4 separate regions of the Homo sapiens genome follow, and regions 2, 3 and 4 are each reported to be linked to region 1. The links are microRNA targets in miRTarBase. Many come from high-throughput screens and were not tested one by one. Region 1 holds a microRNA gene; each other region holds the end of a gene's coding sequence.

Evidence for each region. The annotated mature microRNA hsa-miR-4511 reads GAAGAACUGUUGCAUUUGCCCU and lies in region 1 at 2,286-2,307, shown strand. An mRNA with a match to its seed (bases 2 to 7 or 8) in the 3' UTR can be bound and repressed. Matches are read on the target gene's strand: a 7mer-m8 pairs with bases 2 to 8, a 7mer-A1 pairs with bases 2 to 7 and ends in A, and an 8mer does both.
Region 2: miRTarBase lists ARHGAP42 as a target of hsa-miR-4511. Seed matches in the 3' UTR shown: 7mer-m8 at 888-894.
Region 3: the mRNA of GMNN is a reported target of hsa-miR-4511. Seed matches in the 3' UTR shown: 7mer-m8 at 3,182-3,188.
Region 4: miRTarBase lists CUL4B as a target of hsa-miR-4511. Seed matches in the 3' UTR shown: 7mer-A1 at 3,170-3,176.

The regions. Positions count from the first base shown.
Region 1 is chr15:65,717,450-65,721,603 of GRCh38, reverse strand. MIR4511 (microRNA 4511) reads left to right here and starts at 2,272; the gene lies at 2,272-2,358. DENND4A (DENN domain containing 4A) reads left to right here. Exons shown (of 33, transcript NM_001320835.1): 13 at 3,608-3,826.
Region 2 is chr11:100,988,035-100,992,034 of GRCh38, forward strand. It overlaps ARHGAP42 (Rho GTPase activating protein 42), which reads left to right. Exons shown (of 24, transcript NM_152432.4): 24 at 679-4,000. The coding sequence ends at 767. Among named protein-coding and RNA genes, the nearest start is that of SNORD13I, 56 kb to the left of the region's middle.
Region 3 is chr6:24,785,041-24,789,040 of GRCh38, reverse strand. GMNN (geminin DNA replication inhibitor) reads right to left here. Exons shown (of 7, transcript NM_015895.5): 7 at 2,942-3,403. The coding sequence ends at 3,242. Among named protein-coding and RNA genes, the nearest start is that of ARMH2, 12 kb to the left of the region's middle.
Region 4 is chrX:120,523,262-120,527,261 of GRCh38, forward strand. CUL4B (cullin 4B) reads right to left here. Exons shown (of 20, transcript NM_001079872.2): 20 at 597-3,595. The coding sequence ends at 3,500. Among named protein-coding and RNA genes, the nearest start is that of CUL4B, 36 kb to the right of the region's middle.

The sequences.
Region 1 (4,154 bases):
TTTTTTTTTTAAGTGGAGTCATTAAAGCTATCTTTAAGTCCAAATGCCTCGCAATGCTTTATCACCATGCTCTTTTCTACTGTTAAGGAAAATTAAACCTTCATTTCTTTATCTGATCTTCTTGGTATTATAGCAGATGACCCATTTATGTAATACACATTTATGTTTAGGTACAACATAAGCATAGGAGGTAGCCTACACCCTTGAGGATTCATCATAGTGTATAGTGTAGTTGGAAATAGACATGGATAAAAACAGTATTTACAAAGTACACTTCATAACAAGTAGATGATTCCAAAGTAGCTCATAAGTATTGGGATATTAAACAAATTACATAAAACGTAACAAAATTTTGCCTTATGGAACAAATAAATCATGCATGTAATATCATTTGTTACCTAGTTAATTGCTTTCTAAAAGTGTTTGCACTTCTTTTGAATAGCTAAGAAGCCCAACAGCTATTGTAGCAATATTCAAATATTATTAACATTGGCTGGGCAGGGTGGCTCAGGCCTGTAATCCCAGCACTTTGGGAGGCTGAGGCAGGGAGATCGCTTGAGTCCAGCAGTTTGAGACCATCCTGGGCAACATGCTGAAACCTTGTCTCTGCAAAAAGTACAAATATATATATATATATATATATATATATATATATAATCAATGAAACAGCCCATTCAACTTTTGTGAAAGGCAGAATCTCAAAGGTTAAAACTACAAACATTTAAATAATACTGATAATTAAGGACTCTAACGCTTTATAGCTTCAGAGCACATTCACATACATTCTTTTACGTTACAGCTATGAGAATGAGATTGAAGGAGGCGTATAGTAGCTTCTCACAGATCATACAGTTAACAAGGATGAAGCTGGGATTAAAACCTAGGCTTTCTTGACTGGGCGTAGTGGCTCATACCTGTAATCCCAGCACTTTGGGAGGCCGAGGCAGGTGGATCACCTGAGGTCAGGAGTTCGAGACCAGCCTGGCCGACATAGTAAAACCCCGTCTCTACTAAAAATACAAAAATTACCCGGATGTGGTGGTGCACGCTTGTTGTCCCAGCTACTTGGGAGGCTGAGGCTGGAGAATAGCTTGAACCTGGGAGGCAAAGGTTGCAGTGAACCAAGATTGTGCCACTGCACTCCAGCCTGGGAGACAGAGTGAGACTCCATCTCAAAAAAAAAAAAAAAATCCTAGGCTTTCTGGTTCCAATGCCTTACGTTCTTCCAGTATTTTCACTTTTTTAGACAATAAGAACTCCTCCAAAAACTCTCGAAGACGATTAATTGTTCCTTATATTTTAAAATTTTGAAGTAATAACAAACTTTTTTCCTGACCCTTTGACATTAGATGCTTCATGACATTTGAATAGAATGTATTTCCTACCCAGTACATTCTTTGACATCACTACAATGTAACCATAAAAATCAGAAAATTAACATTGAGAATTACTGCTGTCCTAATCCTCAGACCACATTCAGGTTTTGCCAGTTATCATCTTAATGTTCTTTATAACAAAAGGATCCAGTTCCAAATCAGGTGTTGTATGTAGTTTCAAGTCTCTTTATTTGCCTTTCCTTCTGAACAGTTCCTCAGATTCTCTGCCATCTTTGAAGATTATACTTACCATTGTAGAATTGTCCATGGTGTGGGTTTGTCTGAGCATTCTCATAATAAATACAGGCCACCCATCTATTTTCTTTTTTTTGAGACAGGGTGTCTCACTGTGTCACCCAGGCTGGAGTGCAGTGGCGCGATCACGGTTTATGGCAGCCACAAGCTCCCAGGCTCAAGTGATCCTCCCATCTCAGCCTCCTGAGAAGCTGGGACTACAGACACAAGCTATCACACCCAGCTAATTAAAAAAAAAAAAAATTCTGTAGAGATGGGATCTCACTATATTGCCATGCTGGTCTTGAACTTCTGGGCTCAAGTGATCCTCCCACTGCAGCCTCCTAAAGTGCTAGGATTACAGATGTGAGCCACTGCACCCGGCCCAGGTCACACATCTTTGACAGGAATATCACAGAAGTGATGCTGTGTCTCTCTCATTGCGTCCTTATATCAGATCGCACACTATTTTGCTTTGTCCCATTATTGATGAAGATATTCACTTCGATCACTTGATTAAGGTGGTGTCTACTAGACTTCTCTACTATAAAATTACATGTTTACTATCTAATGGCTTTAGCATTGAATTGTCCAGGAAGAAGAATTGTTTTTTATATTTTAATCCTTGTGTGTTCTTCCTGCAGGTACTTATATTAAAAAAAAAAAAAAGGGAAAGAAGAACTGTTGCATTTGCCCTGCACTCAGTTTGCACAGGGTAAATGCAATAGTTCTTCTTTCCCTTTTTTTAAAAGTCTGTTTTCAATATGTAAGACAAAAACATGAATGAATACAAGAGGGAATGTCACTGCCACTTTGAAAAAGACATATATATGTATTATATAAAATATGTATGTTTTATATATATTCATATGGAAAGAGTGTGAGAGCAAGTATGTGCACATAACATGCAAAGTGGCTGGGCATGGTGCCTCATGCCTATAATCCCAGCACTTTGGGAGGCCAAGGTAGGCGGATCACCTGAGGTCAGGAGTTCGAGACTAGCCTCGCCAACACGGTGAAACCCCGTCTCTACTAAAAATACAAAAATTAGCTGGGCGTGGTGATGGGCACCTGTAATCCCAGCTACCAAGGAGGCTGAGGCAGGAGAATCTCTGGAGCCCGGGAGGTAGGGGCTGCAGTAAGCTGAGATCGTGCCACTGTACTCCAGCCTGGGTGACAGACCAAGACTCTGTCTCAAAAAACCAAAAAAAAAAAAAAAAAAAAAAAAAAAAAGGAAAAAAAACATGCAAAACTTTTGAGGGAAAGGGGGGCAGTTTTTGAAATATTTTCAAATGTACTAGTTTATGTATAATCTCACCATAATCACTTGATGGTGAGAGAACAATGGAGACAATTCTGTATGAAGATTTGAGAGATCTGGGTTTATGTTCCTTTTTTATTATTCTCCTTATTCGTATGTCAGGTCATTTCCCCTCTCAGGGCATGTGCAAAATAGTAGTGGTGTGGGAGGTATAGATGACATGGTTGTTCAGATTCTTTCTGAACAATGCCAATACTTGGTGAGCCTATGAGTGATATATATTTATGTTGAACAGCTTTCTTATATTCTATTGCCTTCTCGGTTACAATCATTATTAACTTATATATAGTTATTTTAGAACATGAACTTAAAAAAAATTTTGTAAAGACAGAATCTCTCTTATGTTGCCCAGGCTAGTCTTGAACTCCTAGCCTCAAGTGATCCTCCTGCCTTGGTCTAGGATTGCACGCATGAGCTACCATGACCGACCTGAGCTTTTTTTTTCCTGGTGGTAGTGAGATAAACGGGTAGCTTTGTGTTTAATTTGGATAAAATTTACTCAACGGAGACTACAAAATGCTATGGCAAGCTTTGCTAAGGTTTACGTATGATTAAGTTATGTAAACAAAGAGTTGAGGTAGCTTGGGTCCTTTTGAAAATACAACAAAATTATATTGGTACCATCATGAGTGTTTTGTGAGTTTGGAGAAAACACTAACACTGTATGTCTTCACAGTGCAGCAGAGACCGAGAGATGATGGACTCATGGATTTAGCAATAAATGACTATGATTTTAATTCTGGAAAGAGGTTGCACATGATAGATTTGGAAATCCAAGAGGCATTTTTGTTTTTCATGGCCTCTATTTTAAAAGGTTACAGATCATACTTAAGGCCAATAACACAAGCCCCATCTGAGACAGCCACAGATGCAGCCTCTCTCTTTGCCCTACAAGGTGAGTGACTGCATAGTTTTAAAGCTTTCAGGTTATTGAGCTTAACTTTGTGATGATTCATTTGCTGTCTGTATTAATAGCTCATATTTATGAGAATACATACCTATTTTGAGGAGAATCTGAATACTAGCTTTGTTGGTTACCCATTTCCATAGGACTAGTTATTTTTCAGGCATATTAGATATAATCCCATTAGCAGATATGCAGAAGAAAAGTATAGAGCCTCCCAACCATATACCGACTACACTTTTGTGTCACATGTGTGTTGAGATACTGATACTTTCAGCTTTCAGAGCAGCAGGCAGTGTTGGGGATAAGAGGAACCCCT
Region 2 (4,000 bases), not on the chromosome of region 1:
GGAGAATGGCTTGAACCAGGGAGGCGGAGGTTGCAGTGAGCTGAGATGGCACCACTGCACTCCAGCCTGGCAACACAGCAAGACTCTGTCTATAAATAAATAAAACATTTTAAAATTCCCTCTGGATTCATTCCTCTCCTGCAGGCATTTGTGTGTATGTACCTGTTTGTACATGTGTGTGAGACAGAGAGATTGTTTTATTTGACTATGTGAATGCAAAGGACATTCCAACTTTAGAGGGCTGTGACATTGTTTTGTTTGGACGTTTGAGTTGAGTGTATAGTTGGACCCTCTACATTCCAGAATTTTTGCATGCACACTTTAACCAACCATGGATCAAAAAGGTTGGAAAATAAATAGATAAATAATAATACAAATTTTAAAAATATATAGTATAACAACTATTTACATAGTATTTACATTGTAAAAGGAATTACAAATAATCTAGAAATGATTTAAAGCATACAGGGGGATGTCCCTAGGGTATATGCAAATATTACATCATTTTATATCAGGGACATGAGCATGCACAGTTTCTGGTATCCACAAGGGGTCCTGGAACTAATCCCCCACAGATACTGAGGACTGACAATCCGATGTGGGTGTTTAACCCATCTGTTTATATAATTATTTGACACTAATGTTGACTGAGTGCTATTTATTTATTTATTTTGCCAGTGTACCCATCAGTGGAACCAGGATGGTTAAAGGCAACTTATGAAGGCAAAACAGGACTAGTTCCAGAAAATTATGTTGTCTTCCTCTAATACTATTTAGTGGATGGCAGTATCTTCATGGTATCCATGGTAACGAATAAATGCTATGATTTTATCTGACACAGATACACGGGGATCAGCCCACTAAGTGAAAACAGTCAATTTCTATCAAGTTCTTCACCAGCAGACTATGTAGCTCCTTATTAATGGAAAAAAAGATTTAAATTGTTGGCCATTCTTTTTTGGTTGGTTTCTTATTTTAAAATATCTTACTTGTGAAAAATGTGTTTTTGGATAATATGTAACTCTCCACAATGTCGCTTCCGTAGCAATTGTAGAGTTTCAAATACTGTGTTAAATACTGTATCCCAGAAATTTGGAAACCAGAAATCTGCTATATGGATTTTGAGATCTGTCCTTTACTGCCTGGCATTCTCTGAGGATCTCTGAAATTGTTACTTAAAAATGTAATTTAAATTGTTCATTTATTGTTTTTTTTTTCTTAGAAATATACTGCTTTTATATATGATTGTTTTGCTGGTCCTAAACATTTCAAGGATGTAAGTCTTTGTTTTAATATAACTTTATTTGTTTTCCAAGTAGATGATAATATTCAAAAGCAATAATGTATATGATATCTATAAAGGAAGCAAAATTAAGTCATACACTGATTCCACTGTAAACAATCTGTCCAGAATTCCAGACACCTTCAGCAAACTTTTTCTGTAAAGGCCTGATAGCAAATATTTTTGTGGTGGGTTGAATTTGGCTTATGGGTTATAGTTTGCTGACACCTAGTTTAGAGGGTGTGTAAAACTATCTTCATAACTTTGAGATTTTTATAAAATTTTACATGAAAATATACTGATAAATTATATGCACATATTTTCTACCAGTAGCATTATAGTGGCATCATAGAAGAATATTTACCAATGATGGGGAAACTGTAAAACTACAGTATCAAGGCATACAACTTAAATTCCACTTGGAAGATTGTAAAGTGTCAAAGTATTTTAATGATAATTTAATTTGGGCTTTTGAAATGTTCTTCTACAAATGAAAAAGATGTTTAAAAACGTTACAAGGGAAGCTATGCCTTCTGAAGTCTATCCTTAGTTGAAACAGAAAATAAACACAAAGGTACAAGATCCTTAAATTATTTTGAACCACAGAGGTTGAAATTGTTTTGTGATCTTCAGCAGAAATAAAATCTGTACATGATTTTCTTTTATGCCTTTTAGTTTACAGTCTTTATTAGCAATTTCAGTGAATTTGTAGAGCATAGTAATAGGTATTTACTGTCCACTTATATATATCAGCATCTGGTCATGCACGAACCATTAATTCTATATTTCTATTTCAATAATTCTAATATATTATTTCTATAAATGTAATATCTGTATGTGGCAAAGAGCCTTTCTTCTCAAGATCCTGAAAAGCTGGTTACCTGCCCTTTGAGTGCCACAGTCCTGAACTGCTTGTTCTTGACATCTTGCATATTACTTCAGAGTTCCCCACTGTGCAGACTCTCAGGTATTAACTGTAAAAAACTCTTTACATGCCATTATTATCTGTAATCTCTATCTCTTCTACTTTAAATTAATGTTTCTAGAATTAATAGGTTAAATACACATACACACACACAACTATGCCTCAGAAAAGTTAGGCTTTTACAAATAAAAAGAATAAGATTAGAATTAACAAGTAGAGAGAATAACGGTAGGCAGAGTCAGAATCAGGAATAAATATCAGTGAATCAAAAGAATGAAAAATATTATGTAATAAAAATTAGCAATGTAATGTAAACGTTTGATAAAAGAGTATCTTTTTCTTTTATCTCTTACTGTTGACCTCTGTGCACTGTAATAAGGTGTGTTGCTGGATCTTCTTGGTCGAGGTCCTTGGTGACCTTAGTAGTAATAACAGCATTGCTGACACCCTAATTGCCCTCTGCTGGAACAGAAGGTAGTTTTCCAGTGTACCAGTCCCTTAGTCTATACAGCACCCTTGGTTTAAGCACACTTGCCATCATCTGGTATCCTGCTAGACTAGAATCTCTTAAAAGCAAATTGGTTTTCTTTCAAAGACCAACTTGACTCCAAAGAGAGATTCAGAATCCTACTTCTCCTGCTGCTGCATAAAGAATCTCAACCTTCATTTTATTTGAACACGGACCAAAGTGTTCCTGCTTCTGAGTTGTCTGTAAGCTAATTCTGCAGATGTTCCATTCAGATTTAAAGCTTTTTTACTGCATAGGATGTGGATAGGAAGCCTAACTATTGTATCTGATGGCAAGGCATATGTTGCAGCCACAGTACTGGCTATGGTCCCTTTGCTGAAACAAGCTACAGAAGCACTGATTCAAGTTGTGCTTGTGCTTGAACTTTTAATCTTCTAGATTTGTGAGGATGGCTCTTTTTCCTTCATAATGGATTACAATGTAAGCAAGTCATGGCCATATACTGGAGACGGGCTAAAGCTGCTTTTCCCTTAAAGTAAGTTTCCTACAGATAAGGTATTTATGAGCACTGAGAAAGTCAGGACATGTACTCTAAATCACACAGAATGTTAATTCCACAGGAAGGCAATGCCAGACATTGAAAGAGGATCACATTCAACTTTTAATAGTAGTTCAATAACAAAACCTTAGCTTTTCAGGAACAATGTGAAGATACATTAGAATTGCCACATCCATATCTTCAAAACACGCAACCTCTGCACCCTAATAACTGCTTACGGTATAATCAGTATGATGATGAGATTGAGGGGGTCTAAATTTAAGTTCCTTATCTCCTGAGTTATGTGAAAATATCCCTCAGTACAAAACATTTGTGTGTTTCACAGATGACTCTCTTGTTTTGCCGTAATGCTACCAAGTTTATGGAAACTAGTCAACTGAAGGATTTTTCTGTTGTGTTATGTGTAAATGTCTGAACAGTAAAATCATCTGTGTATTCCTGTAACATTCACGAAGTATGAGGAAGTGGGTTTCTCCTTGTTTGATGTGAGTGGTTTTGCTTGTTGCATGGGTTCCCTGTGCTTTGTAACTTGCATGAACACAACCAGGTTTCTCAACAATGATTTGTCTGCTGACTCTTTTCAGAGATAGTGAAGGAAAAAAAATGTATTAAAACCCCAAATTATCTAGGTTTCCAAGTAGGAAAAATAAAGATACATATGACTTTTATTATTATTCGATGATAATTAGCTTTATATAATGTGGCATCCTTCATAAAAATTCACTATGTTGTGAGGCAAACAGATTTCTCACTATCATCCAGTGT
Region 3 (4,000 bases), not on the chromosome of region 1:
GAGGCTGGAGTGCAGTGGCGCAATCTATGCTCACTGCAACTTCTGCCTCCCAGATTCAAGCAATTCTTGTGTGCCTCAGCCTCCCGAAGAGCTGTGACTACAGGTGTGCACCACCACGCCCAACTAATCTTTTGTATTTTTAGTAGACAAAGCATTTTGCCATGTTAGCCAGGCTGATGTTGAACTCCTGTCCTCAAGTGATCTGCCTGCCTCAGCCTCCCAAAGTGTAGGGATTACAGGCGTAGCCATCACACCCGGCTGACATGCTATACTAACATTTGATACCTAATTAAAAATCAGACTCATCTTCCACAGGAAATTCCTACAAATTCTCCATCACTAGGGTCAGTTCCCAGGGACTAGAAGCTTAAAATATGTCCCCCAAAACAGCCCCTACATGACCCTTAGGCAACTACTAATCTGCTTTCTCATTATACTTTGTAGTTTTGTGATTTTAAATAAATAGAAGCATACAGTATGTATTTACCTGGCTTCTTTCACACAACATTGAGATTCGTCCATGTGGCGTGTACCAATTTTTGTCCCCTTTTTATTGCTAAATAGTATTCCACTGTATAGTTATACCATAATTTATCCACTCAGTTACCAATGGATATTTGGGCTATTACAAATAAAGCTATGAAAATGTGTGAACTAGTCTTCATGTGGACATATGCTTTCGTTTCTCTTGGGTAAATACCCAGGGGTGGAATGGCTGAGTCATATAAAATGTGTATGTATAACTTTTAAGGAATTGTTCAACTTTTCCACAGCAGTTGTAGCATTTAGCACTGCCACCACCACTGCAGGAGGGTTTCAGATGTTTCACATCCTTAACACTCGATGGAGTTGTTTTTATTTTTCAAACTTAAAACAATTCTGAAAGGTATGTAGCAGTATCTGGTTGTCATTTAATTTGCACTTCCTTAATGACTAATGTTGAGCATCTTTTCATGCACTTAGTTTCCATCTCATACATACCCTAGTTCTTTATAGATACAAATCCTTTGTTGGCTATGTTCTGCAAATATGTTCCCCCAGTCTGTTCTTGCCTTTTCATTTGCTTGTCTTTCAAAAAGTTTTTAAAATTTACAACGTTTAATTTGAAGTTGATGCTTTTTTGTGTCCTATTTGAGAACTCTCTGCCAAACCCAAAGTCACTAAGAACTTTTCTATATAATCTAGAAGTTTTATGGTTTTAGCTACTACCTTAGTTTTTTAATCCCCTTCAATTCCCTCTCCTTTTGCTCCCCACCATCAAATTCTGGCATTTTACAAAAATACTTTCTATTTGTCAAGTCCCTATTCTACTTACCTATTTTCTTTCTTAACCATGCTAAAGGCCTCTCAACTGAGTCTCCTCATGCTCTAATCCAGAATATTCTTCAATTCCTTTAAAATTAATTTACCTATTAATCCTATCTTTAGGCTAGTGATCCACACCTGAAACACACAGAGCCACACTAACGTAATTGCCACTAGCTTCTTGTAGTGACTTAAATTAAAATGTCCATACCTCATTCACACTAGCCACACTTCAAGTGCTAAACAGCCACACAGAAATGGCTACCATACTGTACAGCAGATATTCTCATCATCCCAATAAGTTCTACTGGACAATGTTGTTATAGATTAATAATAGCTTCCATTTTTAAGACACTTAGCCTAGACACTAAAGGTTTTAATCTTCACGATAACACTATGAGGTAGGCTTTATCTCAGTATTAAAGAAAATTAAGGCCAGGCACGGTGGCTCACGCCTGTAATCCCAACACTCTGGAGGCCGAAGCAGGCGGATCGCTTGATGCCAGGAATTCAAGACCAGCCTGGGCAACATGGCGAAACCCCGTCTATATAAAAAATTAGCCAGGTGTGGTGGCACGCACCTGTAGTCTCAGCTACTTGGGAGGCTGAAGTGGGAAGATGACTTGCGCCCATCAGGTGGAGGCTGAAGTGAGCTGAGATTGCACCCCTGCACTCCCGCCTGGGTGACAGAGAGAGAAAATTAAGGTTCTATAAGGATGCTTACCTAAAACAATCCTTTCAAAAGCTTGAGGCCAGGCGTGGTGCCTCACACCTGTCATCCCAGCACTTTGGGAGGCTGAGGTGGGCGGATCACTTGGGGTCAGGAGTTCGAGACCAGCCTGGCCAACATGGTGAAACCCCGGCTCTACTAAAAATACAAAAACTAGCCAGGTGTGGTGGCAGGCACCTGTAATCGCAGCTACTCAGGAGGCTGAGGCAGAATCACTTGAACCAGGGAGGCAGAGGTTGCAGTGAGCCAAGATCATGCCATTGCACTCCAGCCTGGGCAACAAGAGCAAGACTCCGTCTCAAAGGAAAAAAAATAAAAGCATGACATTGCTCTTTATTGCCAATTTATACAAAACTACTTGTATGCCTCTCACAGAACTTTTTCAGTTCCAATGCTACATACCCCTAGTTTGTACTTTTCCTCCTTCAAAACTTAGTATATATGGGAAATCCCTAATGAATCTGACCCTACTCTTATTCTTCAATATTTACATACTTTGCACTATACCAATATGTGAAATAGAAAAGCTCCATAATTTTCAGCTATTCCTGATTTTTTCCGTCAAACTTCTACCCACTCCTCACTTTGTTTCTTGAGGATTATCACCATCATCCATCATTTTAAGCTTCCAAGAAGAGTCTGATCCTGCTAGCCAGTTGGGCCTCTCACTGTCTAATCAGATTCACTTGAAAAGCTTTTGGAAAATAGATTCTCATGCTCCATTCCAAAAACAACTTGTTAATATCAATAGTGTCTACAATGAGCTTGAGGTACAACAAAGTTTGGGAGTTAAAAACCTCAGCTATCTCAGTCTAAATACTTTAAGTTCGTTTTCTCCTTGTCTCCTCCAAGGTAGTTAGCAAAAGAATGGAAAGAGAACAACATAAAAGCATAGAAACAGACAAATTTTCTACACATACTCCTTATATTTCATTATTCTAAGTTATACACAATGTTCAACAGGAGTTTGAAGTTTATTTAGTAATAAACATAAGTCATGGCTGACAACTGAGAAAATCCTATTCACATAAACCATCATAGATTAAAAATACATAGTATTTGTACTTTAATGCAATAGGGTCCCAGGATTCAAACAAGGAAATTTGATTCCAGAGTTGGCATTATGTAGTTATGTACTCTGCTACAAAGAACTAGTGGAGGTAAACTTCGGCAGTAAAATTCTCAACAGTCAAATATTAATGCATTTCATATACATGGCTTTGCATCCGTAGAGGAAGATACAGTTCCTTCAGCACACGTGCCAATTTCTGAGTCTTCCACTAGAGAATCCTCAACAGTTTCTTCTTCAGAATCAAATTCCTGATTATCCAGTGATTCAAAATTATCCAGAGGTTCACCATTCAGTCTCTTTTAAAGAATAAACCAATAATTTATTGTAAAAATGTTAAAACCTAAGCTGATCAGCATACTGATATAGCTGACCCGTATAGCATACTGATATAGCTATGAGATTTTTTTCATCTTGCCCCTCAATAAATTCATTTATAAACAGTATTATATCAAAGTCTCTACCATGCTAGATCATAGTCAGCAAAGTCAAAGTGTTTAATAATTTGTCTTTTTTTTTTAAAAAGCACTGAAATTATTTCAGAGTATAAACAGGTACTTCCCCAATCAGCTGCAAGGACAAGTAGGTGTTCTACATTTCCAATCAGCTGTGGACTAATTCTTTTAAGGCAGTTAAGACAGCTACCACAGTATCTCCAAATGAAAACTTCAAATATTAATTCTATCATGGATCTCAAATGTAAAAGGTCACAATTCAGTTACATGAAGTTTTGATTTGAAAAACTTTCTTCCTATCAGCAAGAAAAACTTTTTGCAAACATGAATAAATAAATCTTAAAACCTTTTTAAGGTCAAGTCTGATAAAGCAACACCAGGCTAATTCTTACAAACATATTAGCTACTTACAAAATGTTTTAAAGTCAGATAAAACCACAA
Region 4 (4,000 bases), not on the chromosome of region 1:
GGAATGGGAAATGACTGCTTATTGGTGCCAAGTTTCCTTTAGAGTTGATGAAAATGTTCTGGAACTACATAATGGTGACTGCACAATATTGTGAATGTACTAAATGTCAGAATTGTATACTTTATCATGGTTAGAATGGTAAATTTTGTGTGTACTTTACCACAATAAAAAATTTAAAAATTAAAGAAAAGTTTTGAAATTAGAGAACAAATGAAGAGGATCTGTTGTTGTTATAGCTGGCAAAACTATTAAGTTCTAACATGCCAGTGCAGCACATTCTTATATTTTACATCCAATAGAAACGGTTTTACAAAAGAAAGGTCAGAGTCTTTTTCACTATGCTAGAGATGACTTCTAAGGATTGTTAAACATAAAGGTACATTATGTGTCCATTCAAAAGAAGAAATACCCTTTTTTATAATAGCAAGGGGAAAAAGGAAAATAATTGAGCAAAGTGTTTGATTTCAACCAAGTGTTTGCAGGTGAACAAACTTCAGTATTCAAATGTAAAGCAGGTGTTTTTTTGTAGGACACTGAAAAATATTCATTAATGAAGCATTAGCAAGATATCATTTTACAAAGCATAATTATGCAAATTTTCATCAGTACTGCTCTTTTCTTTTTAATGAACAATTTGTTTTGGCAATTTTATGTAAATAAGAGAATAGAACACGCTCACAACACTCCTGCCATTCACAGCATTAAACAGAGTGGTCATGAAAACAAAGACCAGCTCATTTTAAAAGATTTATGAATATCCAGATTAAAAAACAAACTTCTCAAATCTTTAGATCCAGATGCCCAGATAAACTGGTTTTCTGAACTGTACACTCACATACACAGCAAAAATTTCAAGAGTATGGCTAGACATCATATTAAGACCATTCAAGCAGACTCAGGAACTGGGTTCAAAAACTTTGAGGAACATCTTACTCTGAGAGTATCTGGCCCAGAACTCAAAAAACTATTAACAGAAAAGGCAGAGCAAATGCCATAACTAAGAGTAATCTTTTCTTCTCCCCTGAACTCAAATCTAGACTCATTTCATATTGACTTTATGAAACAATTTGACACTGAGGATTTGAATGAAGCAATGTTTATACTTGTATCCGCATGTTTAAGAATAATTATCCACCTTGAGGATTCCTGGGAATTTTCCTCACCCTGTTAACCATGCCCTCCCCCATACTCTTATAGCATTACCACAAAACCATTACAAAATTTTTAAAAAGTTTAAAAATAACAAAATCAACAAATGTGAGTTCATTAGAAGTTGTTAGGAAGATTTTAAGTCCTGTGATTTTATAACTTTCTTACAATACTTGAATTTTAAAGATCTTCTCTAGAAACTTTTTTTAAATAAAAGTTTTATTGGAGAAAAATAGAACCACCACGTACACAGGGAAAAGAGCACAAAAATTCAACTGATACAGAACAACAACTGAAAGTCACAATTATCCAATGTAGTTTGCAATTACTTTTCAGTTTCTTAAACAGCTCCCCTCAACTTTTTTTTTTTAACAGTCTTGCTAATTTTTCAGCTGAAACAGCATCAAGTTTTCAAAGAATTAAGAGCCTCGGGGAGGGGACCCGCTTTCAAGATACTGAAGGTGACATCAAGAGTCTCCTCCTAACAGGACCAACTCTATCTAAAAGTTGCTTACGAGTAACTTGAATCTTGTGTAATAGTCTACATCTCACAGACCATCAGGGATGAGTTAGAACACTGTTGTTGATGGTCCGGTATGAAGAGAGGGTAAACAAAATAGCTGCATTTGCTTGTCAGCTGAGCTCATATAAAGAAATCAGTGAGGAGCTGAGAAAATATAGGCAATGGCTGCTCAATAAGAATTACAAGTTCCGAATACCACATATAGTTAGACACCAGTGTGCAAGTTGATGCAACTAGAAAGAAATAGACGACTTTTTAAAATACCTGGCCACAGGTCTTTGAGAACTCAAGCAAACAATCAACAGTAGACACAAGAGTCAAAAATCTTCTCAGGTTGAAGATTAGGACATAGGTAATCTTCCTAACGGCTCCAACAGGCAAGGAAATATGCTGTGGCAAAAAGCATTAAGTAGTTCTGATTTTTAACAAACATAAACAAAATTTTCTGCTTCTCCTCCCTTCAAAGCTTCAAGGAAATAGAAACAAGGAAACAAAATAAAAACAAAAAAAAATCAGTGACAGTAAAGAGAAGCCTTTGCTTGAATTATCAATTCGAAAAACAGTACTTTTGCCATTTTGTATATATAAACAATCTTGGGACATTCTCCTGAAAACTAGGTGTCCAGTGGCTAAGAGAACTCGATTTCAAGCAATTCTGAAAGGAAAACCAGCATGACACAGAATCTCAAATTCCCAAACAGGGGCTCTGTGGGAAAAATGAGGGAGGACCTTTGTATCTAGGGTTTTAGCAAGTTAAAATGAAGATGACAGGAAAGGCTTATTTATCAACAAAGAGAAGAGTTGGGATGCTTCTAAAAAAAACTTTGGTAGAGAAAATAGGAATGCTAAATCCTAGGAAGCCTGTAACAATCTACAATTGGTCCAAGTTGAAGACAAAACTGTCCAAACAACATTTAAAGTCTAAAGTATGTTGAAAACTAGTTGCAAAGTTTTTGCTCCTGTAACAATTTACAAAACACGTTCATTTTGGTCTCTTTTGCAATTTTCTTATTGTATTCATTTTTAATATAAAGAGTTGGATTTTTCTCTTCTATGATGTTCCTCTAGTACAACTGATCATTAATTTTCTACTTTAGCTATTTTTATAAGTACTTGTTAATCAGCACAGTTAACTTGGGGCTAAGCCATATACACACATCCCATACTCATAAATGAAAATTTTTAGGATGTGAATATACAAGATATTATGTAAGCAACTGTCCCCCTACTTGAAAACTTGTTTCCAAATAATTTTTTTTAAAAAACATCCCTTTCAGTGTAACAGAACATCACCTAGTAAAATATCAATAGCTATGACAATTCATTTCTCTTTTCAAGGGAAATCACAAAACGGGTGAACAACCAAGTCAAGGGTGGTTTTTCTATTTGATAAATACATCCAGAACTCTGTACAGTAAATAAAGTTTGCATGCAGTTTAAGTATCTTTAAATGACATTTTAAGCAAATAAACCTTTTGCTTCATAATTAATGGTGTGTAAGAACCCTCCCCCCTTTTTAATAGCCACAGGGATCTCTTTCCCAGTTCCAAAGAGGAATTCATGAAGACCAGGTACGTTCTTAAGTGTTTTCTGCACATCATACTAAATAACATGCAAAGAGTTCAACAACATTCTTCTTAAAGGTAAGTATTACTCTTTAAAATGGGCATGTTAACCACTGAGAAAAAGTCCACTCAACTATTTCCATTAATTACACTGCTTCATTTGGTCATCGGTAGTAAAAAAGGAGTCAAATAATATTGAATCAACAGGTTAGTTTATCCACTGGCTACTGCATATGACACCAAATGCTGCAAGGCCAACATTCTATGCAATATAGTTGTACTGGTTTGGATTTTCTTTATCTCTTTCCATGTAGTCCCGGTCAATTAAAGATTCTATTCTCTTCTTAAGATCAGCAGGCTGTAAGAGAAGGCAAATTTTCAATGTAAAGTTCATTATCATTGGCTCAAGCCCATTTAGTTAATACCCCATTAAAAAGACAACAGTTTCGGCTCATGAATTTAATCTCCTTTTTTAAAATTTTTATTTATTTAAATCTCTTTTTTAGAGAAAAGTATCATGAAAATAAACCAGGTTAAAAAATGTTTTATACACGTTGAAGATTCTTTTTTTTTTTTTTTGAGACGGAGTCTCGCTCTGTCACCCAGGCTGGACTGCAGTGGCACCACTTTGGCTCACTGCAACCTCCACCTCCTGGGTTCAAGTGATTCTTCTGCCTCAGCTTCCCGAGTAGCTGGGACTAGACACAAGCCACCACGCCTGGCTAATTTTTGTATTTTTGGTAGAGATGGGGTGTCACCATAT